Regions from separate parts of the Homo sapiens genome. Here regions 2 and 3 are each linked to region 1. The links come from fine-mapping of genetic effects on gene expression. A gene starts in region 1. Each other region holds a variant in brackets. All regions are shown on one strand. Distances are between the middles of the regions. Region 1 holds the start of RBL2 (RB transcriptional corepressor like 2). Region 2 has its middle 110 kb from the start of LINC03064. Region 3 has its middle 67 kb from the start of RBL2.

Region 1 (5,000 bases):
AAGGAAGAAATATCATTATTTTAAAATCAATATTCCCAGTGTATATACAGGTAAAATACTAAGATTTTAATACACTTATTATTTATTAATTTATTTATTTATTGAGATGGAGTTGCTCTGTCGCCCAGGCTGGAGTGCAGTGGCATGATCCCAGCTAACTGCAGTCTTTGCCTCCTGGGTTCCAGCAATTCTCCTGCCTCAGCCTCCTGAGTAGCTGGGATTACTGGCACCAGCCACCACTCCTGGCTAATTTTTTGTATTTTTAGTAGAAATGGGGTTTCACAATGTTTGCCAGGCTGGTCTTAAACTCCTAACCTTAAGTGATCTGCCCGCCTTGGCCTCCCAAAGTGTAGGGATTACAGGCGTGAGCCACCGCGCCTTGCCAAATTATTTATTATTATTTTTTTGAGACAGGGTCTCTGTTGCCCAAGCTGTAGTGGCATGGTCACAGTTCACTGCAGACTCCCCAGGCTTAGGCGTTCCTCCCACCTCAGTCTCCCAAGTAGCTAGGATTACAGGCGTGTACCACCACTCTGGGTTAATTTTTCTATTTTTTGTAGAGACAGGGTTTCACTATGTCGCCCAGGCTGGTCTCGAACTCCTGTACTCAAGCAGTCCTCCCACCTTGACCTCCCAAAGTGCTGGATTTACAGGTGTGATCCACAACGTCCAGCCTATATACTTAAGATACTTCTAAACCATTTGTGTTCAACTTCTGTTCTTGCCCCATAGTCACCTTGAGACTCATCACTTAGCCAACTCCAAAAGCATTGCTGATTACTGTGAATTTTACTAAGGTTTTCTTAAGAGGGTTCCATTGTCTCAAAATTGTTCCTGAAATATCCTGTTACCTGTCTACCTGATTTTCTCCTATCTTCAGAGTTCCATTTCCTGTCCTCCCGCCTGTCATTATACCTTCCATAAGCCCCTACTTTTGTCCCAGCACTTTTCCCTCTGTCAGTTTACATATCCCACCAAGCAAAACAAAAATAGCAAAACAGTAATGCCTTCTGAATCCTCAAATTGCTCAATCCTCAGATTGCTCCTCAATCTGGAAAATGTTTTATATCAAGCCCATTTATAAATCAAGGATTGGCAATTTAAAAAATTAAAATAAAGAAAGGAGAATTGGAAATAAAATGAATTGGCTGGGCACGGTGGCTCACGCCTGTAATCCCAGAACTTTGGGAGGCCGAGGTGGGTGGATCACTTGAGGTCAGGAGTTCGAGACCAGCCTGGCCAACATGGTGAAACCCTGCCTGTACTGAAAATACAAAAATTAGCTGGGTGCGGTGGCGCACACCTGTAATCCCAGATACTCAGGAGGCTGAGGCAGGAGAATCGCTTGAACCCAGGAGGCGGAGGTTGCAGTGAGCCGAGATCGTGCCACTACACTCCAGCCTGGGCAACAGAGCCAGACTCTGTCTCAAAAAAAAAAAAAAAGTTTAATTCACGCAGAGCCAGCTGAACGGCAGACAGGAGTTTGGTTATTCAAATCAGCCTACCAGAAAATTCGGAGACTGGGGTTTTTAAAGAATGACTTGGCGGGTAGGGGGCCAGGGATTGGCGAATGCTAATTTGTCAGGTGGGAGGTGAAATCACAGGGGGTTGAAGTGGGCTCTTGCTGTCTTCTGTTACTGAGTGGAATTGCAGAACTTGTTGAGCCAGATTATGGTCTGAGTGGCGCCAGCTAGTGCATCGGAATGCGCGGTCTGAAAAGTATCTCCAGCACCAATCTTAGGTTTTACAATAGTGATGTTATCCCTGAGAGCAATTGGGGAGGTCAGGAATCTTATAGCCTCTGGCTGCAAGCCTCCTAAATCATAATTTCTAATCTTGTGGCTAATTTGTTAGTTCTACAAAGGCAGACTGATCCCCAGGCAAGAATGGGGTTTGTTTTTGGAAAGGACTGTTACAATCTTTGTTTCAAAGTGAAATTAGAAATTAAATTCCTCCTGTAGTTAGTTAGGTCTTCGCCCAGGAATGAACAAGGGCAGCTCGGAAGTGAGAAGCGTGGAGTCATTTAGGTCAGATCCCTTGCACTGTCATAACTTTCTCACTGTTAGGATTTTTGCAAAGGCAGTTTCGTGAACGTACAGAGACAGGCCCTTGCTATTATCCCTATTTTTTAGATAAGGATATCCAGGCGATGAGGAAGTTTTACTTCTGGGAACAGCCTGGATACGAAACCTTCACACGTCAGTGTCTTTTGGACATTTTCTCGTCAGTACAGCCCTGTTGAATGTTCTCACGGTGGGGAGGTACGTGTTTAAAATGCGGGGAAGGTGCTTTTATTTCACCCCTGGTGAAACTAGGGGAGCTAATTTTTTTAAACATGATTTTTGGCCCCCTTGAACCGCCGGCCTGGACTACGTTTCCCAGCAGCCCGTGCTCAAGACTACGGGTGCCTGCAGGCGGTCAGCGTCGTTTGCGGCGGCGCAGGCGCGGTGCGGGCGGCGGACGGGCGGGCGCTTCGCCGTTTGAATGGCTGCGGGCCCGGGCCCTCACCTCACCTGAGGTCCGGCCGCCCAGGGGTGCGCTATGCCGTCGGGAGGTGACCAGTCGCCACCGCCCCCGCCTCCCCCTCCGGCGGCGGCAGCCTCGGATGAGGAGGAGGAGGACGACGGCGAGGCGGAAGACGCCGCGCCGCCTGCCGAGTCGCCCACCCCTCAGATCCAGCAGCGGTTCGACGAGCTGTGCAGCCGCCTCAACATGGACGAGGCGGCGCGGGCCGAGGCCTGGGACAGCTACCGCAGCATGAGCGAAAGCTACACGCTGGAGGTGCGCTCGCGGGCGGAGGGGCGCTTCCGGCCTAGTTGGCGTGAACCGGTGCCTTCCGAGCCGCGTCGCGCGCCTCGAGAGACTCTCGGGCGGGTTGCGGGCTCCCAGCCCCGAGAGGGGTGGGGACTTCCTCTGCGCTATTCCGAGGCTCTTAGCCGCTCCGAGGGCTAACCCGCTCTCGCCGCGCTTTCCTGCGGCTTCCGAATGGGGAACGCGTCTTGCCCTAAAGTAGCACAGCAAGGCTGAGATCGCGCTGGGGTCCCGTTGAGGAAAATGGGTGTGTGTGGCCCATCTGACCCCCCGCCCGCCTTGTTAGTAGAATGAACTAGTGTCGTTGTCAAGACCACACGGACAAGGGGAGGGGACTTGCCCTTATTTGCACCGCGATTAACCGGGTTGTGGCACCTGGGTCTCCAGGCGTCTCCGTCTGTTCGCTTCCCCCTGTTAACCAAATTGCCTTTGCCCTGGCGTTGCGGGCGTTTGAGTCAACGTGCTGATGCGTTTTGGGCTGTGTTTACGTCTGTGTAAACAAATTAATACTCATTTCCCCCCAGGCCAGATGAAATGAGCCCTCCGCCGACCCGGATGTAGACACATGCCCCCATTTGTCACTAGGATCAGGACTGTGGCTACCTCGAGGGCTTTTTGGTCACCCCGGGCATTGCACAGGACTCCTGTTGTTGTTGCGATCCGGGTGTGTTAGGTCGCAGCCTTCGGACAGGGCTTGCAGATGAGAAAAATGGCCATTCTAGCCAGTGAGTGTCAGCTTTGTATGCACCTCCCCTTCATGGGCCAATGGGAAGTGACACGGAAGTACGGATTGTTTATCAGCTGTTTGACTGTGTGTGTGGCATTTAAACCTGAGGCCATTTGATTTCTCAAGTCGTTTTATAATTAATTTGTAGAAAGAGTCGGGCAAATAGGTCCAGGATGCAAAGCCTAACCAAGGTATTATTTAAATATGATGTTTTTGGCTATGTGTACTGATGAGTGAGGTTATTTTTAATTTGTATTTGCATTAATAGAATTTTAATTCAATTACTAGTTCCCTCTTTGAATTGTTAGGTCTGCAGAAGATAGTGTATGGTGGCTTTAGAACCCGACAGACCTGAAACCGCTGGAAAAGTTCAGTATGGTGATCTCTAAACTGGAGATATTTGTGTTTACCTCACAGAGCTGTTCTGAAGATTAAATAAGGCAATAATGTAGTTTCTGGCACATAAAGCACCCATATGGACAGTGTTTTCAAGTTTACTAAGCTCTTTGTATATTTACATGATCTGGCTGAGTAAGCTATGTTCCTATTCATCTCTCAGTGCCTTTCTGTAGTCTGGCAAAGAGAAGGACTGGTTGGCTTTTTATGTTGTTTTTTGTTTTTTGGGTTTTTTTTTGGTAAATGGCCTTAAAGGCTTCCAAACAAGCTCTTATTTTACCCTCAAGATAATCCTGTAAATCAGATAGAACAAGCATTATCGCCATTTATTTGAGGTATTTCAACTCATAGCAGTTAAGTTGTATGAAGTCTAGTGATACATGAGCAAGTATCACGTAATAGCTGGTTAGTAAATTATTTTTGAAAACATGTTTGATTACTCAATTCTTTTGATTACTGAGACTTTAGTTTCAGCTTCTTAGCCCAGTTTATTCAGTAAATGATTTACTCAGTAAAATATTCATCAAATATTTCTTGAGCACCTATTACTTGCTACACATTGTTCTAGGTGCTGGATATAGAGCAGCAAACCTGCTCTTGTGGGGCTTACAGTGAGGTACGCTGTGACAATATGGGATGTCATTCTCATGGGAGTGCAAGGGAAAATAAAGCTCTTATGATGTTTAATACAGAATACTGGTTATGGAATTTTAACTTGATTTCTTGTATTTTCTGTGCATTTTTAACCTGTAACTCATTCTCACAGTCCTCAGCCAAGAAAATGCAGCCTCTGAGACTGTTAAGTAATTTCCCCACTGTGTTATAGCTACTGTATGGCAGAGCCGGAATTTGAAACCAGATCTATTTGACCCTAGAAGATGTGACCATGAGATGTTAATTTTGAGGATAACTTTTTTAGTATTATGGAATTTTCAACATATATTTTTTAGGACCAAAGATAAACTAGGCACAGAGTCTACTCTTTGCATAAATTATTTAAAAGAGCTTCGCGCTCCATTTTGTCATCTAAGCACTGTAAAATTCTCACAAGACTAATTCTTCTTTT
Region 2 (8,186 bases), 720 kb before region 1:
ATTACTGGTTTCATAAATTTAGGGTTTATACCAGAGATGTCCAGAATATCCCAGATGTGACCTGCAAAGGCAGAAGAATGTGCTTAATTTATACACAGCTGAAGGCGCCTATCTAAAGGAAGGGGGTGGTGGGGTGGGGGGAAGGGAGTGGAGGAATAAAGACAAAGAAAGAAACCAGATTTGCTCCTAATGCCAGCCTGAGTTCCCTGCTGCTCTCCACTGTATGCAAAATGCCAGTTTGAGTGAGAAAAACCACAAAGGAGACCTAGAGGCAATGGAAATTTAGGGGGCAAAGGCATCCAGGCTGAATCCTCAAGGGGAGTAGAGAGAGGGGGTTTGTGTTGTCAACTGGCATGGGCAAAGGACAAGGCAGTCGGGGTTGGGGAGACAAGAGAAGATGCTTCCCTGTCCTTTAACAGGTCTTTTGAGTCAAATTCGTCTATTAAGATTATTAAGTTTTTGTTTCTTTCAAAGCTTCTGGGAAAAGGAGAGATTCATCTTGGCAGAGATTCTCATGGGGATACTGAACCTAACTGTTAACTCACCCAGCCACACAAGCCACTCTTTTTAATCCAGGTTCTTCCAGCTTTCCTATGATAAGTGTGTATCTGTTTCACTCCACAGTGATCCAGCAATAAAATTTTTTACATGTGTGTTTGTGTATGCGTACATTTGTGTGTAATTAAAGCAAAAATAGGAATTTGTTTTCATCTCTCTGGGGTTCCCTAGTCAGGGAAGTATTTTTCTGGACAGTCCTGTGTTCCCTGCTCTCCACCACCACCCAGTGATCAGAAACTCTTTGGGAATTTGCTTATTTCCTCACTGACTTTGAGTCTCTAGGCTTGGATTTACATTATAATTCTGGTTACACAGGCTTGTCCATGTTGTCAGTTTCTCCAGGGGAAAATAGCAGAGGCTTCATTGGCCTCCACAGTGAGCCACATTTCTGGGGAAGCTTCTCTAGGGGATGTGCCTGGTCTCCCATCTCCACCCAGCAGAGAGCAGTGAGGAGCCTCTCGCCCAGTGTGTCTGCTTCCAGGGCTCCCTAATTGATGAACAAATGGATTCATGAATTCTCCAAGCTGAGCCTTCGTTAGGGAGTCCCTGAGGACAGAGTTCATCATGTCTCCAAAACAATCAGGCCATTCGAAAAATGGCAGATAGAGTCAGAAAGAATATATCTCCCAAGAACATATCAAGTTCAGCCTTGAGGAACAGGATGAAAAGAAGCTTCTCTATTGCTCTTTTTCTCAATAGTACAAAGAAGGAGGCAAATACTGTCTTATCCCAGAGGATGAGGGTGGTTATCAGAAAGAGGAGCCATCAGGTTAGCTCAAGAAAAAATGGGGATTTGTTGGAATGGTTGGAAGGCTCAGGGAATCCAAGAATAAGAAGTGCTCTGGATCTCTGGAGATAATTCTGACATAAAGGGAGATACTCGCTCCAGCTCTGTTTCTTTCAGAAGCTTCATGGTTTGCTTCCCTGCTTCTTTCCTTTTACCAGTTTAATTCTCGCTTTCTCTGCAGTGTGGTCCTCTCTGCTCCATCTCACCATGGGTTCCACCTTTGTAATGCTTTCCAATTAGGCTGCCCTAAAAAACCTGTCCTGGGTCATGACGTTACAAAATCAGCACCCCAAGAGAGGATCTGATTGACTGAGCCTGAATCAGGGCTTCAGTCCTGGTCCAATCAGCTGTGCTGGGAGTAAAGTGGTCACATAGTTCACTCAGCCGGGGTGGAGGAAACAACGCTACAGGAGGGAGGAGAAGGAGATGGAGGCAAAATGATTAACAGCATTTGATTTATTTTTTTATCCCAGTGTCCTGCCAACTCTCTGCTGCAGTTTTTAAGGAAGTTTTGTCGTCACCCAGCTTGGGTTGATTCGTTCTGGCTTCTAAAATACCTTTTCAAATCTACTTTTCATTTAAAGTGTTTCCCAGACATAAAACCAGACGTGTACAGGAGAAGAGAATATACCTAACTGGCATGTTTTAGAGTCACCACGAGAGAAGGGTCGCCGTATGTGTTTTTGGTGACCTCTGGTATCTCTAACTCTGGCCACAGTGCTTGGCTCATAGTAAAGGCTCAAAAAATAGTTGTTAAAGGAATGAACCAATTAATGAGATTTTGTCAAAGGCTGTAAGCCTTCAGCCTCTCCATTTCAGGCAACCATTCTTCTGGATCCCATGTACTCTTAACAGACAGTGGTTTCAGACTTTGGCTGTGGGTATCGCTGAGGATACAACCAGTCACTGCTTGTTGGGCAGTGGCTCCCAAGCCCCAGCTGATGTCTGCAGGTAGCCAGCATGTGTTCAGAGGGCAGATGTGCACGGCTTGGGAAGCTGGCTCCAAATCTGCCACAATAAACCTAAGCCCTGGACCGCTCAAGGGAAGACGGGACTCAGAGGAGCTCTTGAATATAAAGGAGGCTCCAGCGGGAGTGTGACAACCAGTACAACCAAGAAGGCACGTTGTCTCCGTGCCCAAATGATCCTAAGCACAGGAAAAACAGACAAACTTAACAAGCTCTAGGATATTTCACTGGAATCCCTTTAATGGTGCTAAAAATGGTCTTTCATGCATTTACTTTAAAATAGAGAAGTGTGCTAGCCCCTGCAATTCTACTTCTAGAGATCTGTTTTATAGAAATATTTAGCCTTGTGGCAAAGATATATACACAAGTGTATTCACTGCAGCAGAATTTAAAATAATAGTTTTTTTTTTAAATGGAGGCAACTGAAATGTCCATCAGTCAGGGAATGACAATACTAAATACATATGCTCATATTTGTGGATTAAATGTAGTTATCAAAAGCGCAATAGTAGATCTATATGTACCCTGACATGGAAAGATGCCAAAATATGATTCTATTTTTGTTTTAAAATAAACTGTATAAGCAATGTGACTATAGTTAGCAATACTGTATTGTATACTTGAGATTTACTGAGAGTAGATCTTAAGTGTTGTCACAAGGAAAGAAGAAAGAAAGAAAGAAAGAAAGAAAAAGAAAGAAAGAAAGAAAGAAAGAAAGAAAGAAAGAAGGAGAAAGAAAGAGA[AAGAAAGAAAG/A]AGAAAGAAAGAAAGAAAGAAAGAAAGAAAGAAAGAAAGAAAGAAAAAGAAAGAAAGGGAAAGACAGAAAAAGAAAGAAAAAGGAAAGAAAGAAAGAAAGAAAAAATTGAAGAGAAGAGAAAGGAAGGAAGGAATGAAGGAAGGAAGGAAATGGTAATTATGTGAGGTACTGGATATGTTAATTAATTTTATTATGGTGATTATTTTACAATGTATATGTATATCAAAACATCAAGTTACACACTTTCAGTATATACAATTTTTACTTGTCAATAATACCTCAATAAAACTGGAAAAAGTAAAAGAAACTCTTTACACATGTTGTAAGAAGACTGTATAAATCCATGGACACAGTTTGGCAGATTATACACCCAAGTTTAAAACTAATCCATAGCAGAAGCCACTGAGGGGAATTTTCATGCTGCTCCTACTCACTGCTCTCTATTTCTGTGTCAAGTTTTTATAAGCATGTTTTTCTTTTGTAATTTTCAAAAATTTGACAAAGTAAAGAAAATGAAAAAATAAAATAATAATTTACTAACCATGATTCCCATATAAAGAACCTGAGTCTCAGATACTAATTTACTGTAAATCACTTGCCTGTTTTGAGATTGGCACAATCTAATACCATGTGACTTACAAGAAGCAATGGGTTTACACTACATCGTGATGGATTTAAGTTAGATGTAAGGATCCAAATTATTATGGACTGGTAGTCACTGTGATCCATTAGTAATTTCTAAAGTCACTAAAGTGATTTAGAATGTGGTCTCTTGTGTCTTCTAGACTGAGATTTAAATTTTACTCACTTATAAGCTGGGTGACCTTGAGCAAGATACCTAACTTTTTCATCTTTTAAATTATTCATTTGTAAAGTTAGGATAATGATAACATCTACCCAATAGGGTCATTGTAAAAATATAGGTAAATACTACATGTTAAGTGTAGTGGCTGAGACCTGGTGAGTACTCAAAAATCTTAGCCAGCATATTTGTAGCATCCATGAGAGACCCTGTAAGATGTAAAAAGCAAGTCACCTGTCCAGGTTCCTACTGTATAACCTGGAATCCCCAAGGGGCCCATGGCTGGCTTTCTGCAATTCAGAGAATCACCTAAAATTACGTGGAAAACTTGGTGGGAAAAGGCATGTGTAAATCTCTCTAGGGAGAAGAATACAGCCTCCTCACATCCTTAAAGGTACTCAGAAGGCCAAGGATCCCTGATGGGAGGCCACTTCTCTCTAGAAACACAGCCTCCAGCTGAAACTCACCAGCTGCCATACCCAGCTTTTCAGGGCCACTCTTTGTCTCTGCTGGGGATCCTATGGCCACACTATTTACCTAGAGCTGAGCCGGCCCTGGGCTGCCCTACCATCAATCTCACTAAGTTAGAATAAATCTAATCTAACAACAAGTTGATAAATCCATAAATACCTTTTGTCACAGAATTGACCAGTTGGCTGAATTCACCAGCTGGACCACTGAATTAATCAGGACTATTTCAATTTCAGGTAACGGAAAGCCAGCTCATTCTCAATGGAAAAGAATAGAATCTAATCATGCAAACAAGTCCAGGAGGGCTTCTAATTTCAAGCAGGGCTTTATTCAGGTGCTCCAACAATATCATCAGGAATCTGTCTCTGTCTCTCATCTCTGCTTTACTCTGAGTGGGCATCAATCTCAGGTGATCAGGTCACAGTGATGAATTTCGGCAGTGCTAAGCTAGCCACCCCAGCAAAAGAGGAGCTTCCCTTTCTCAGGAGTTCCAGCCAAGGGTCAAAATTCACACCATCATCCCACTTTGGACATTGCCTCACCTTGGAACCAATTTCGATGGCCAAGGAAGGAGGTGGATGGCTCTGATTGGTTAGCCCAGAGCCCAGCCTTAGGGGCTGGGGATGGAGTCCCCCACACAGAACCTCATGGAATAAGAGTGGTTGAAGGATGATGGTTACTCAGAGTAAATTAGGGTGCTGTTACCCAAAGAAAGGAGAATAGTAAATCAGGATGCTGTTACCCAAAGAAAGGAGAATAGTAAATCAGGGTGCTGTTACCCAAAGAAAGGAGAATAGGTGTTGAACTGGACGGCTGTCTGCTAACCTGTTATTACTCTTCTCAAAGACACAACCTCTGCATTGTTTTAGCCAAAACACAATAGCCAAGTCTTTTCTGATAAAAACAGTCCAGTCTGAACCTGATTCTGCAGACCCAAGCCACAAGTCCAGGCAGAAAACTTCCAAATCAAGGGATGGCCGCAGACTTCTCCAACAGATAAGCCGTGCAGACACGGCTTCTGCTACTTAACGTCCTCTAGGTAGCTCTCCACTGTGATTTGCAAGGCTCATATTAGCCTGTCAGAAGGGAAGGATTAACATGTATTTTGATTTCTGTTGAAAACACGTTGTTTCAGAAATAAAGTTGGCATGGCAGGCATCTTGGTTGATTTAATCTCTGACACAGGAAGTTTATTTATAGCATCACAGTCCTCTGAATGTTTAAAAACTCAAGCATTATAAGCCTGCTGTGCTTTTCCTGCGAAGTATGGAACGGCACTAAATGAATAATGCCACCAGAGCCAGCAGCAGAGCCAGGATCCAGAATCAAACACCGCTTTCATCTGCTCCTGATAGGTGTGAACTCCCCTCTGCCGGGGCTTGGATCCCTCCTGCAGGATGGGTTTCCTGGGCTCCCAGTCTGCATCTTAGCTCTCCAACCCCCTTTCCCAATCTGCCCTCTTTCTCTTTTTGAACTCTCTTCTGGATGGCCAGAGAAGTTCTAAATCAGATGAGCTTCCCTGCACGGCATCTTCCACCGAGATAACCCTTTCTCACGACAGTCCTATTCCATTCAACATGTGTCAAGAATATTGTTGAGAAATGGCGTGAAAGCAGTCTAAGCCGCCCTCCTCATTTTCCAGGTCAGATCGAGTCTCAAACAACACATTTTCCCCCAATAACTAACTCTTACTAAAAATAGATATTGACGGTAAGGATGTGGGGTAATTTAGGCATTTAAGACTGCCTTCCTGTCGCGGAAAAATTGATTATACTCAAGTTGAAAAGGTAAGTTGCTCTGGGTGTATGTGAAAGAGCTACCCGGGAAGGGGGAATGGGTGGAGGGGGGATGAACAGAGATTGGTCGATGCTTGCAAACATACAGTTGGATAAAAGGAATAAGTTCTCATGTTTGATAACAGAGTAGGGTGACTATGGTTAAGAACAATATGTTGTATTTTTCAAAATTGCCAGAAGAGAGGAAATGTTACCAACACATAGAAAAGATAAATACTCAGGTGATAGATACCCTAAATGCCCTAACTTGATCATCACACATTCTATGCATGTAGCAAAATTTCACATGTATCCCATAAATATATACAAATATATCGTATCCAAAAAAATTAAATAAAGAACCAGACAATGACGTCCTTTTAAGCAGAGGATCCCAAATGATGGCTGCAAGCTTAAATATTTTATATTAATTTACAAGAAAGAACCAACAGCCTCAACACTATAATCTGAAAGCAGTGTACTTTTACAGGTCAAAGGATCAGGTAAATCTTTTTTCTTGAATTTTAATGTCAGAGGCTATGGTTTTGACGTTTAGACACAAAACAGATGGCATGCACTTTAAATCAAGCTGACGCCACCTCATTCTAGAACCTGGCAACAAAGAAATTTCATCCCAGCATTTTTCTGTAAGAAAAAGAATGGAAAACAGACAGAAATTTGCTCTCCCTTCCTAAGCATACGCTTCATTACAGGGAAGTTCTCATCAAGGGAAGGAAGATCTCAGAACCAGATCAGGGATCTCTGGAAGAGGCATGTGACAAGCCTGTGAGTTACTAATGTTGGATTTTATGATGATGTCCACTCAAAAATCAGAACAAGAGTTATTTTGGAGATAAATATTGACCTGACAACCAAAAACTGTACCACTGTGATGAGCGGACATAGGATAATACCTTGATCCTGGAGTTAAAACTGAGTTTGAATTCCAAATGCACCAATTACATGACTATGAGCAACTTATTCTTTCTCATTAAGCCTCAGCTTCCTTATCTGTGTAATGGCAATAATATCTACTTCATAAGGCTCTCATAAAAATTAAATGAGATAAACTGAATATTAAATAAGAGTTCTCGGCCGGGCGCAGTGGCTCACATCCGTAATCCCAGCACTTTGGGAGGCCGAGGCAGGTGGATCACCTGAGGCCAGGAGCTCGAGAACAGCCTGGCCAACATGGTGAAACCTCGTCTCTACTGAAAATACAAAAATTAGCCGGGCTTGGTGGCAGATGCCTGTAATCCCAGCTACCCGGGAGGCTAAGGCAGGAGAATCGCTTGAACCTGGGAGGCGGAGGTTGCAGTAAGCCGAGACGGCGCCATTGCACTCCAGCCTGGGTGACAAGTGTGAAACTCCATCTCAAAAACAAAACAAAACAACAACAAAAGAGTTATTTGTATTACTAAAACTCTAAAAGCCAAAGACAAGACAGCAGAGGCCAAATTGCCCCAGTAGGACATACAAAAAAAAAAGATTGTTTTTGACTCGTAGTCATCAATAACTTTGTGGGAAGGCAAGAAGTTTGATGGACAAGGCCAGTATTGATTGAGGATTTAAAAAGAAATTTCTGGGGCACCCTGACAGATGTTCTGTTGTCACCAAAGCTCGAGCTCCCAAGGGCGTCGTCCCCTGGATCCTCATCCTCTACTTGGAGGTAATTACCTGCTGTGCCCCATCCACCCAAAACCGCTGTGCTCCATGGAAATACTGTTTGTCTTCAGCAAACACCCCCATGTCTTCCATTTCTTCCCTGAACATCTCCTTCAAAGTGACAAAGATTTTTCTTATGACAACAATTCTCTCCTTGCGACAAATGTTCTCTTCTTGATCAAACTTTAGTCAGGCTTCCAACTAGATCCCACCCTTAAGCATATCCCCCAAGAGCTCAATTTTAGCAAGAATCCTGCGGAGTCAGTTTAGCCAGAACCCCCTCCCCTCAATATCTGATCACTCTCTATATCTGTTCAGGTTTCTCATCCTCCATCATCGTCCAGGTGATGTCTGGCCTGCCTTCAGCAGGAAGCCAGTTAGGCAGATTTGGCCAGAATCCCCCATT
Region 3 (10,224 bases), 67 kb before region 1:
GACTGGGGCCTCTACATCTGAGTGCCCCCCAAACCCAGCAGTCATGTCATGAGCAAACAGAAATCACGTTACTTCTTCCAGCTGAGCTCGGTTCTGTTGTTTCTATGGGGAGAGTCAAAGGAATGCGACTGAGGGTGGCTCCCTTGACTCTATTCCCCAGGCCAGGAAGCCATAGGCAGGGGCCAGGAATGGATTTTAAAGGCAAAGTTCTCAGACCCAATGGGAACATGAACTGGTAAACTCTCCTCAACTCCCAAAGAAAAAGGATTTGGGTCTTTGTTGGTTTTTGCCCACAGCCACAGAACTGAAAGTCTGAAACTAGATTCTCTCAAAAAGACAGTAACATAAACCTTCAGAGATAGAGTGTGAGAAAAGCCCACCCTTCTGCCAGCTTGTGATTTAGAAAGATGCATTCACTCAACAAACATTGACTGAGCACATACTGGCCAGGGACTGTTCTTCACAGGAAGGATATAGGACGGAAAAGGCAGACAGGAGCCCTTGGCCCCAGGGTTTCCATTCTAGTCAGCCTTTAACTCTCAGACTCTCAGAGCTAACAGAAACCTCTGATACTCTCTAACTCTACCTCAGGAAACGCAAGCCCAAGAAGGATAGTTTACAGCAGGGCCTGGACTAGGGATTAACATAAAAACAACAATGACAAATCTCATTTAAACTTCACAAATGTAAGGAAAACAATACCACTCCTATTTTACAGATGTGAAAAGAGAGGCCCAAAGAGCTCAAGCAATTTGCCCTAAATCATATCCCTAGCAGATGGAGAGGCAGGATTCAAACCCAGAATTCTTAACCGGTACCTGGCAGTTCTTCCACAATCTTAACAATTACCCTCCACCACCCCTTGGGCCCTCTGTCTCCAGGAGCCTGGCCAGCCAAGACTCACATCCTCAGGTGAGTGGCAACCACCAGAAGTGGTTGTCTCAGGGTTAGTGCCATTATTTATTTTCTTCTTTTTGGTGTCGGTTGCTCCTGTACCAACACTAGGGCTGGTCTGGGGAGGAGAGTCTCTCAACTGTGGAAAGGAAGAGCAGTGATACTCATGAGAGCTACAAGCTCCTACAGTCACATCCTGCTTTACAGTTTATACAAAATACTATTATAGACCATCTGATTTAATGCCACCAAGAACTGTAGGAAGTGTTGTCACAATCACTTAGTGACTGAGAGGGATTGATACCATGGCTGAAAAAAAGGCAATAATGGAACTTAAACTCAGTCTTCTGACTCCGAGCTCCAGGATTTTGCCACAAATCAGCAGCTGCCAGGGACCAAAACCAGAGGCAGAGGTAGAAAAGCAAATATTAAGTAGGCAGAAACTGTATACTGTGTGGTTTAGAGCCATACACCCTCACACATCTGTTAGTGTTAAGAAGTGCACCAGTACCTCTCAAACTTTTACATCAATGTATCCTCATGGCAGAAGGCAGCCTTTCTGTTAAATCTGGGAATTTAACAGAAAGAGGATAACCCAAGCCTCATTTCAGAGAGAAGTCTTGTATACTCATAAATCTATGTGACTGTCATGCCTAAGTACATTAATGTTTTGTCTCTCAATAGAATCAAGGGAAACTGATGCTTCAGAAAGATGCCCCATATTTATCCTGTGGCACTCAAATTACCCCAGGTTGAGATGAGATGAGCTTAAATCCCTGCCTCTTGAGGGAAATCAGCCCAGTTTCAGGACGTGCAGTTCACAAAACTGCCCCATCTTCCCTTTATTTTTTCTTTTTATTTTATTTATTTATGTATTTATTTTGAGATGGAGTCTCGCTCTGTTGCCCAGGCTGGAGTGCAGTGGCGCATCTCAGCTCACTGCAACCTCCATCTTCTGAGTTCAAGCGATTCCCCTGCTTCAGCCTCCTGAGTAGCTGGGACTACAGGCATGCACCACCATGCCCAGCTAATTTTTGTATTTTTAGTAGAGAGGGAGTTTTACCATCTTGGACAGGCTGGTCTCGAACTCCTGACCTCAAGTGATCCATCTGCCTTGGCCTCCCAAAGTGCTGGGATTACAGGCATGAGCCACTGTGCCTAGCCTGTCATATTATTTTTAAAAATTTCAGTGACATTTCAATTAAGTTAAATTTAATTCTTACTGACCTGATCTCTTATCTTCTGTTTAATGATATATTAACAGATTACAGTTAATATATTACAGTTAATAATAATATACAGTTAATATACAGTTATATATACAGTTAATATATATTATTAACTGTATAACATACAGTTAATATATATTATTAACTGTATAATATACAGTTAATAATAATTACAGTTAATATATTACAGTTAATAATAATAACTGTAATAACTGATTACAGTTGAAAGGTGTTTCCCCTGTAATCACAAGTGCTAAAGGAAATATAACATGTATTCATTAGATAGATATCCACTAAACCACTGATTCTCGCATTGTAGTCCTTAGACCCTCAGCATCAGCAACACGTGGGAACCTGTTAGACATGCAAATTCCTGGACCAGCCCCACACTTCCTGAATCAGAAAGTGGGGAAGAGGGACAGCTATCTGTGCTTTAATAAGCCTTGAGATGCTCCCTGAAGTTTGAAAACTACAGAACTAGAATACATATGGTAGTAAGTGCTCATACTTTATCCAAGGTACCAGGGACTCTTCCCCTCTTTTCCATTCTCTTTTCTGTTGAAATAAAATGAAAACTTATTTTGACTTAATGGGTATAAAAAAGAAGGCAATGAGATGACCAGGGTTTCAAGTTAAGAGTTCAAAATTTAATCAGTGGACAGTGACAGGATGCAAGTCTTCTAAACAGATTACTGCAAGGAAGCTGATTATAATCTATACAGTAGGTATCATTAGTGTACTGATGTTAAATGTTTTGGGTGGATTAATGGTATTGTGATTATATAGGAGAATATCCTGGTTCTTAGGAGATATCTGCAAAAGTACTTAACAGTGAAATGCTATGATACTGGCAACTTACTTTGAAATGATTCAGGGGGAAAAAGGGCAAATATACAATCTTCCATATGGGGAAAAGAGAACACAAATATGACAAAATGTGAACTAGTGAATCCAGTTGAATAGAATACAGATGTTCACTGTATGATTTTATCAACTTTTCTGTGTTTGCAAGTTTTTAAAATAAAAAGTTAAGGGAAAAGAAACATCGCCCCAAATCTTTCTATGAAATGGAACCACAGAAAAAGCATAGAAGTGAACTCTTTGCAGAAGAGGGCACTGTACCCATCCAGACAGCATGGTTAAAGTGCAGGGTCTCCTCCAGGAAGCTATTCTCTGGTCTCTTCTGTGCTGTCACTTCCCCCCGACGCTGCCAAGGCTTTTTTCTAATAACTCTTTTTCTAAAGATGTAATTTTTTTCATTCATCTAAGAAAGAGACAAAAAAATTAGTATACATTTAGAAAATAAAATTATACTTGTGTAAAAACAAAAAATACTTTGAAAAGTGGGGAAGCAAAAAATGTACTGTTCTATAATTCTGTTCTGTTCTTACCATCTTTTTATTCTGCCAATGACCTCCTATTCCTGCTGCCTATGGTGAGGTGAGCTGCAAATAATTTCTTATCCTCATTTATTTAAAATTTCATGTTTATAATATACTAAACTCCCTCAGAAGCATTTGGGTTTATTTCTGGGCTCTATTCTATTCAAGTGATCTATCTGTTCACAAGCCACTATCAATTTTGATTATTAGAGCATCCTAAAGTTAAGTAATTCTTTTTTTTTTTTTTTTTTTAGATGGAGTCTCTCACTCTGTTGGCCAGGCTGGAGTGCAGTGGCATGATCTCAGCTCACTGCAAGCTCCTCCTCCCGGGTTCAAGCCATTCTCCTGCCTCAGCCTCTGGAGTAGCTGGGACTACAGGCACCCGCCACCACGCCTGGCTAATTTTTTGTATTTTTAGTAGAGATGGGGTTTCATCATGTTAGCCAGGATGGTCTTGATCTCCTGACCTCGTGATCCACCCACCTTGGCCTCCCAAAGTGCTGAGATTACAGGCGTGAGCCACCACACCTGGCCAAGTAATTCTTTGATTAGGATATTAGTATTTGATGGAGTCTGACCCTTTTGACTTTAAACTCAAATTCTTATTATCTCTAACTTCTAAAAGACAACAATTATGACTTCAGTGTATAAAATGCCAGCTTTTTCAGCTAACTTACAGAATTCTCTTATTTTCCTAATATTGATTCAGTTTATCCTTTCGGTTTTCTCTCCAAACACTAATGTTTTCATTTTAGTATCCCTAATCTTTTTTTTTTTTTTTTTTTTTTTGAGACAGAGTCTCGCTCTGTTGCCCAGGCTGGAGTACAGCTGCACTATCTCAGCTCATTGCAACCTCCATCTCCCAGGCTCAAGCAGTCCTCTCACTTCAGACTCCCAAGTAGCTGGGACACAGGCACATGTAACGCGCCCAGCTAATTTTGTATTTTTTTGCAGAGATGAGGTCTCACCATGTTGCCTGGGCTGGTCTCAAACTCCTGAGCTCAAGTGCTGAGAGCTCCTGAGCTCCCAAAGTGCTGGGATTACAGGTGTGAACCACTGCTCCTGGAAGTTTTCCTAATCTCTTATCTTTTGTAGTTGCACTGGCTTATGTGGCTATTAACTGTTAGTGTTAATTAACAGGGGTAACTGTAATACTGGACATTTTGTCTTATTCCTGATCTTAAAGGGATGTTTGTAGAATTTCACCCATCATGCATGATGGCAGCTTTTGGCTAGATGTATTTATAACCCACTAGGAGTTAAAAAAAAATCAGAAATAAATATTGAATTTTATCAAATGTCTTTCTAACATATATGGAGGGAACCGTGTATTTTCTCCTTAACGTCTTGCAACCAGGAATCATATCAGATCTTCTAATAGTGATTCAAAAGGATAAGGTTCATGTGGTTGTGTGGCATAATTTTCCCACTGTGCTATGTTTGCATCACTAGTCATGAATGAGAGAGTGTGTGTGTTTTAACGCCACCTTTGTCAGGTTTGGGTTTTCATGTTCTAACAGTTTGAAAAGAAAAAAGTTTGAAAGTTCTATTTTATTCTTTATCTGTGGAAATTGCAATAAATTATTTGTGATTTACTGAAAATTTCACTTGAAGGTCTGATATAATTTCAAAGCAAAACCAAACCTTTCTTTCTTTTTTGTGGGGGAAGGGTGGGAGGAGTGGGATGGGAGGACACTAACTCATTGATACTTTATGGTTTTTTTCCCCCTTTAGAATTTATTTTCTTGGGACAATCTGACAACGATGAATTTAATTTAGATTCGCAGATTTTAAAAATAATTCTTTTGATATTCTTGGTATAGTTTATTTGCCTGTTCTCCAGCTCTGTTGCCCAGGCTGGAGTGCCTAGTCCAATCATAGCTCACTGCAGCCTTGAACTGCTGGACTCAAGTGATCATCCCCGATAAGCCTCTCGAGTAGCAGAGACTATAGGCTCATGCTACCACACCCAGCTAATTTTTTAAATTTGTAGTGGAGACGGGGTTTCACCGTGTTGTCCATGCTGGTCTTGAACACTTGGGCTCAAGCAATCCTCCCTCCTCAGTCTCCCAAAGTGCTGGGATTACAAGTGTGAGCTACTGTGCCTGGCACTATTCTCATTTTTATTATAATAAAATTTTGGGATTGGATAAATAATATAGCCAAATTATTGGAGCCAGACTATATCTACTAAAATTAATGAGATTTCACTTGTCTGAAATCATGACATACTTTGGGAAGATATGTTTGTCCTGGTATTAATTAAAATTACAGCTATTTGACATTCACCAAAATCTGTGGAGCACCTTAAAGACATAGGCGGTATCCTCTAGAGCAGTCAAAACAGTTACAAGAAGAGGCTCTCAGGACAGCTTTGTCAGGAGAGACAGGCTATACATATAAAGACACAAGGGAGAGAGAAAAGAAACAACTATTTTACACGCAGGCCCCAAATTGAAAGCTATAGGCTGGGTAACGCAGGCACTGATTTCTGCAAATCAGATGCTTTCCATATGGCATCTCTATAAGATGTGCTTTTGCTTTAGAGAGTAGCAGCAAGATCTTCAGTTTTCTGTTTGTTTGTTTGTTTGTTTGTTTGAAGACAGGATCTTGCTCCACCACCCAGGCTGGAAAGCAGTGATGTGATCATAGCTCACTGCAGCATCAACCTCCTGGGCTCAAGTGATCCTCCCGCCTCAGCCACCTGAGTCGCTGGATTACAGGCATACACCACCATGCCCCACTAATTTTTTTATTTTTTGTAGAGACAGGGCCTCACTATGTTGCCCAGGCTGGTCTTGAACTCCTGAGCTCAAGTGATCCTCCCGCTTCAGACTACCAAAGTGCTAGGATTACAGGCATCAACCACCACACCTGGCCAAGATATTTGTTTTCAAAGGATGGTTAATAGTTACAACAAGAAAAATAGGGAAGGCTAGGGCACAGTGGCTCACGCCTGTAATCTCAGCACTTTGGGAGGCCAAGGCAGGAGGATCACCTGAGGTCAGGAGTTCGAGATCAGCCTGGCCAACACGGTGAAACCCCATGTCTTCTAAAAATACAAAAATTGGCCAGGCATGGTGGAATGCACCTTTAATCTCAGCTACTCAGGAGGCTGAGGCAGAATCACTTGAACCCGGGAGGTGGAGGCTGCAGTGAGCCGAGATCACGCCATTGCACTCCAGCCTGGGTGACAGAGCAAGACTCCATCTCAAAAAAAAAAGAAAGAAAATAGGGAAGATTTGTTAGTAGTCTGTGAGTTCCACAATCATGCGAAGCATATTAAAAATTCCTTAAATTCCTAATTACCTTTTCCTGTCTTTTTTCAAAAGAAGATTAACTTCATCAGAATTTTTCTTTACATTTAAAACACCTGCATCTTCAGTTGCCTCATCATCCGGCAAAGCAAAAGTCACTCTTTTCAAGCTTTCTTTACATTGTTTACTGTCTTCTCTTTCTTCCAGGTGATCACCTTCATCCCTACACTACCAAAACTCTTATAAAAAGAAATATATTGTTTTCCATTAGAAAAACAAAAGGAAACATATTTTCCCTTAACAAAGTTCCTCTTTTATATGCCTAATGCAACCAGATACTTAGAACTTCCAAAATCATTCAGGTATTAAGGAAGAGAAGCTATCATTTAAGTGAAATGCTATGTAAGAAACAAAAAGGGTCCAATATATAGAAAATAAATTATTCATCAATCTATAATACAAACCTCTTATCTCACAAAAATAACAGGATTTTGGGGGCACAAAACCAAATCAAAGTTCCTGGTAAGAAAGGTTTGATTGCTACTGTCAGTAATATTTTTCTTCATTAAATGATCTCTAATGTCCGTTTAAATCCAGTGACTTTCCTCTGGCTATCTTGAGAAGATCTGATAGGAGAGTATCTAACTTCTTAAAACAAACATATGTGAAAACCACAAATACAAACACTGATTGGGCAATTCCAGCTCACAAAGTAAAGGATGTTTCAAAATACTCACATTTCAGAAATGCTTCCTTCTTCTGCTTCTTCTTCAGCAATTTCATCATCTTGTTTGAACCCAGCTCATCATCATGATCACTTGCTATGTCTTCATCACTTTCAACTGGATCAAAAAAATCTTTGTTGTTCACATTTCTGGAACTTTTA[C/A]CTGACTAAAATAAAAAGATTTTTAAAACTATTAATTAGGAATAGAAAAATACATCATTAACACATGCATATATATATACTGTATGTCTATATTACTTTCTAACTTAACACTACAAGTCAAAAATAGTTACTAGGTGAAATTGGCAACTAAAAACACTACCATAAAACTATTATAAGAACAACTGGAACATAAACTGAATGGAAGTACAGATTCATTTATAACTGATAAAACAAAGCATAATATATCTTAGCTCTAAACCTTCTAACTACAATTACATCTCTCCTAGAAAAACAGAACAAAAGCTAATTTGAGGAGGAGGAAAGTGCTCTCTCCTTTCTCAAACTTAACCTTAAGTTTTTTACTTCCAAACAGTCCCCTTTTATCTTCATCAGAATCAATATCTTCAAAAAAAAATCAGTATCTTCCACCTCATCATCATTATCATCTTTTCGTTCCTCTTCTTTTTCTCTGTTTTCTAAATAAGCCTCCATTTCAGAGAGTTGGAAGAATTTCTCGTCTATTATGGACTTTTCTCTTGGTTTTCCATGTCCTGTGTTTTGCACCTTGCTCTGCTGTTCCAATTTGCTGATATCAAAGTCAAGGTCAGAATCCTCATCACTGAAAACTGGGCTTTTCCTCAGCTCAAATTTGCTTGAGTTTCTAGCTTTCTTGCCCACTTCAGGATTGTCACCACCCATATCTGACACTTCCTCTTCCTCCTGTAAATCTTCTAGGTCCTCCTGGCCACCAGTCTCTGTCTCTGAACCATCCTCTTCACACTCCTGTTCTTCACTCTCTGGGAGAAGACTGATGTCTTCATCTTTGTTTCACTAACTGCATTTTGGAAGCATTGTAAAATTGGTTCATTTTGCAATTCCAGTTGTTGCAAAGTCTGCTCATCATCAAAACTTTCTATCACAAGTTTTTGTAAAGGGCTTCCACAGATCCTTCCATTCTCTAATATTTTATTAAAGTCATAAACCACTTTTGTTAAAGAAGTGAACTTTGATGACAATCCATCTTGAATCCTATTGGGAGGAATTAAATGAGATTTAGAATTATAGGTAATAATTTCACAGCTCTCTTAATTAAAAGAAAAATAAAAACCCCAACTCTTCTGTAAAATCAAATTTGAATGAAGTGTAAGTATAGATTCTGGCCCCAACAACATACAAGCTGATGAGCCACAGTGATATATAAAACCTGTCAATCAAGTATTTGTGAATCAGCTGTATAGATTTTAGGCAGGAAAAGCATTACAAATCTGTTTGCTTGGAGATACATAGTGAATTAGCCTTAAATTATCAACTCTGCTATATTATACACCACTCCATTCATTCATTCCCTTATTCCTTCAGTGATCAACATTTGCTTTGGCTACAGTGGTCAAGGAAAACCTCTTTTGGATGTGACATCTCAGATGAAACCTACAGATAAGGATAGTCTTATAAAGATTGGGAAACATGTATTCCAGGCAGAAGAAACAGCAAGAACAAATTCTCTAAGATGCAATTGAGCTTGGTAGGCCTGAGGAATAAAAAAGTGAGCACAGCTAGAGTGTGAAGGAGGCAGAAGGTGAAATTGGAGAAACTGATGGGAGCCAAATTCTACAGGGCTCAAGGGTAAGAGTTTGCCATTTTAAGTGTAATAAGAAAACATGAGAAGATTTTAAGCAGAAGGATGAAATGATGATTTACAAGAAGGAAGAAGAAAGGGAGGAAGGAGGAGGAGGAAAGTAGAGTGATTAGAAGGTTGATGCAGCATTCCAGGCAAAGGATGATGGTGATTTAAGCTGGAGTTAGAGCAGTGAATATGCTGAGTACAGTCTGGAGGTAGAACTGACAGGATTGCTAAGGAATTAGATACAGAATAGAGAAAAATGAAGACATCAAAATAGCAGCCTAGTTTTATGTGTGAGCAACAGGAAAGACAGAACTGCCATTTACTGTGACAGGCAAGGCTTGAGTGCTGGAGCATGGGGAAAGGACTTCAGCGGATGGCAGAGTATAGGTGGGTAGAACAACATTCTACTCTATTTTGGACACAGTGAATTTGCGATGCTGAGAGTACCAAAATTTTAAAAATTGTTAAAAGCCGTACAGTGCGGATATCCCAGTTGTGTGCTACTGAATTCCAACTAAGCTCAGTCTGTAGTCGCTGTGAGCCAGGAACTCAAGGGAGAGGTTGGAGTTTGAAATATAAATGAGTCATAATTTTATAGATCATATTTGAAGTTCTTCAACAGAATACCCATAAAACTTTTGTGCTGGGAAGAGACAGGAAAGTTCTAATTCTCAAGAAGCTTAGTTGGGGTGGACAGACAAGTGACGAGTTTGTACTTTCAATAAAGTATGATGACAGGTAAATACTGAGTGCTTTAGGAGTACATAGGCGGAAGGAGAAACCAAAACAGTTTGTGTGTAGGGGTATGGCGGCAGTAATAAGCCTCCAGGGGAGCTTCTAGGCGTTAATAACTGAGGTTATTTGGTGGATTTCAATAACATTCAACTGAGAGAGCCATACTGTAAAAATTTTAACAATTTTGAAAATTGTGATAGCCTAGGAAAGTATAATC

The links.
Region 2: its variant is fine-mapped to the expression of RBL2 in B cells (Fairfax 2012, PIP 0.95).
Region 3: its variant is fine-mapped to the expression of RBL2 in whole blood (TOPMed, PIP above 0.99).

The regions. Positions count from the first base shown.
Region 1 is chr16:53,432,016-53,437,015 of GRCh38, forward strand. It overlaps RBL2 (RB transcriptional corepressor like 2), which reads left to right and starts at 2,456. Exons shown (of 22, transcript NM_005611.4): 1 at 2,456-2,781. The coding sequence starts at 2,542. RefSeq lists a silencer at 2,511-2,730 and an enhancer at 3,341-3,450.
Region 2 is chr16:52,708,485-52,716,670 of GRCh38, forward strand. No RefSeq gene overlaps it. Among named protein-coding and RNA genes, the nearest start is that of LINC03064, 110 kb to the left of the region's middle. The variant AAGAAAGAAAG/A (reference allele first, on the strand shown) is at 3,057.
Region 3 is chr16:53,362,643-53,372,866 of GRCh38, forward strand. It overlaps the pseudogene LOC101929000 and the pseudogene MPHOSPH10P1. Among named protein-coding and RNA genes, the nearest start is that of RBL2, 67 kb to the right of the region's middle. The variant C/A (reference allele first, on the strand shown) is at 7,649.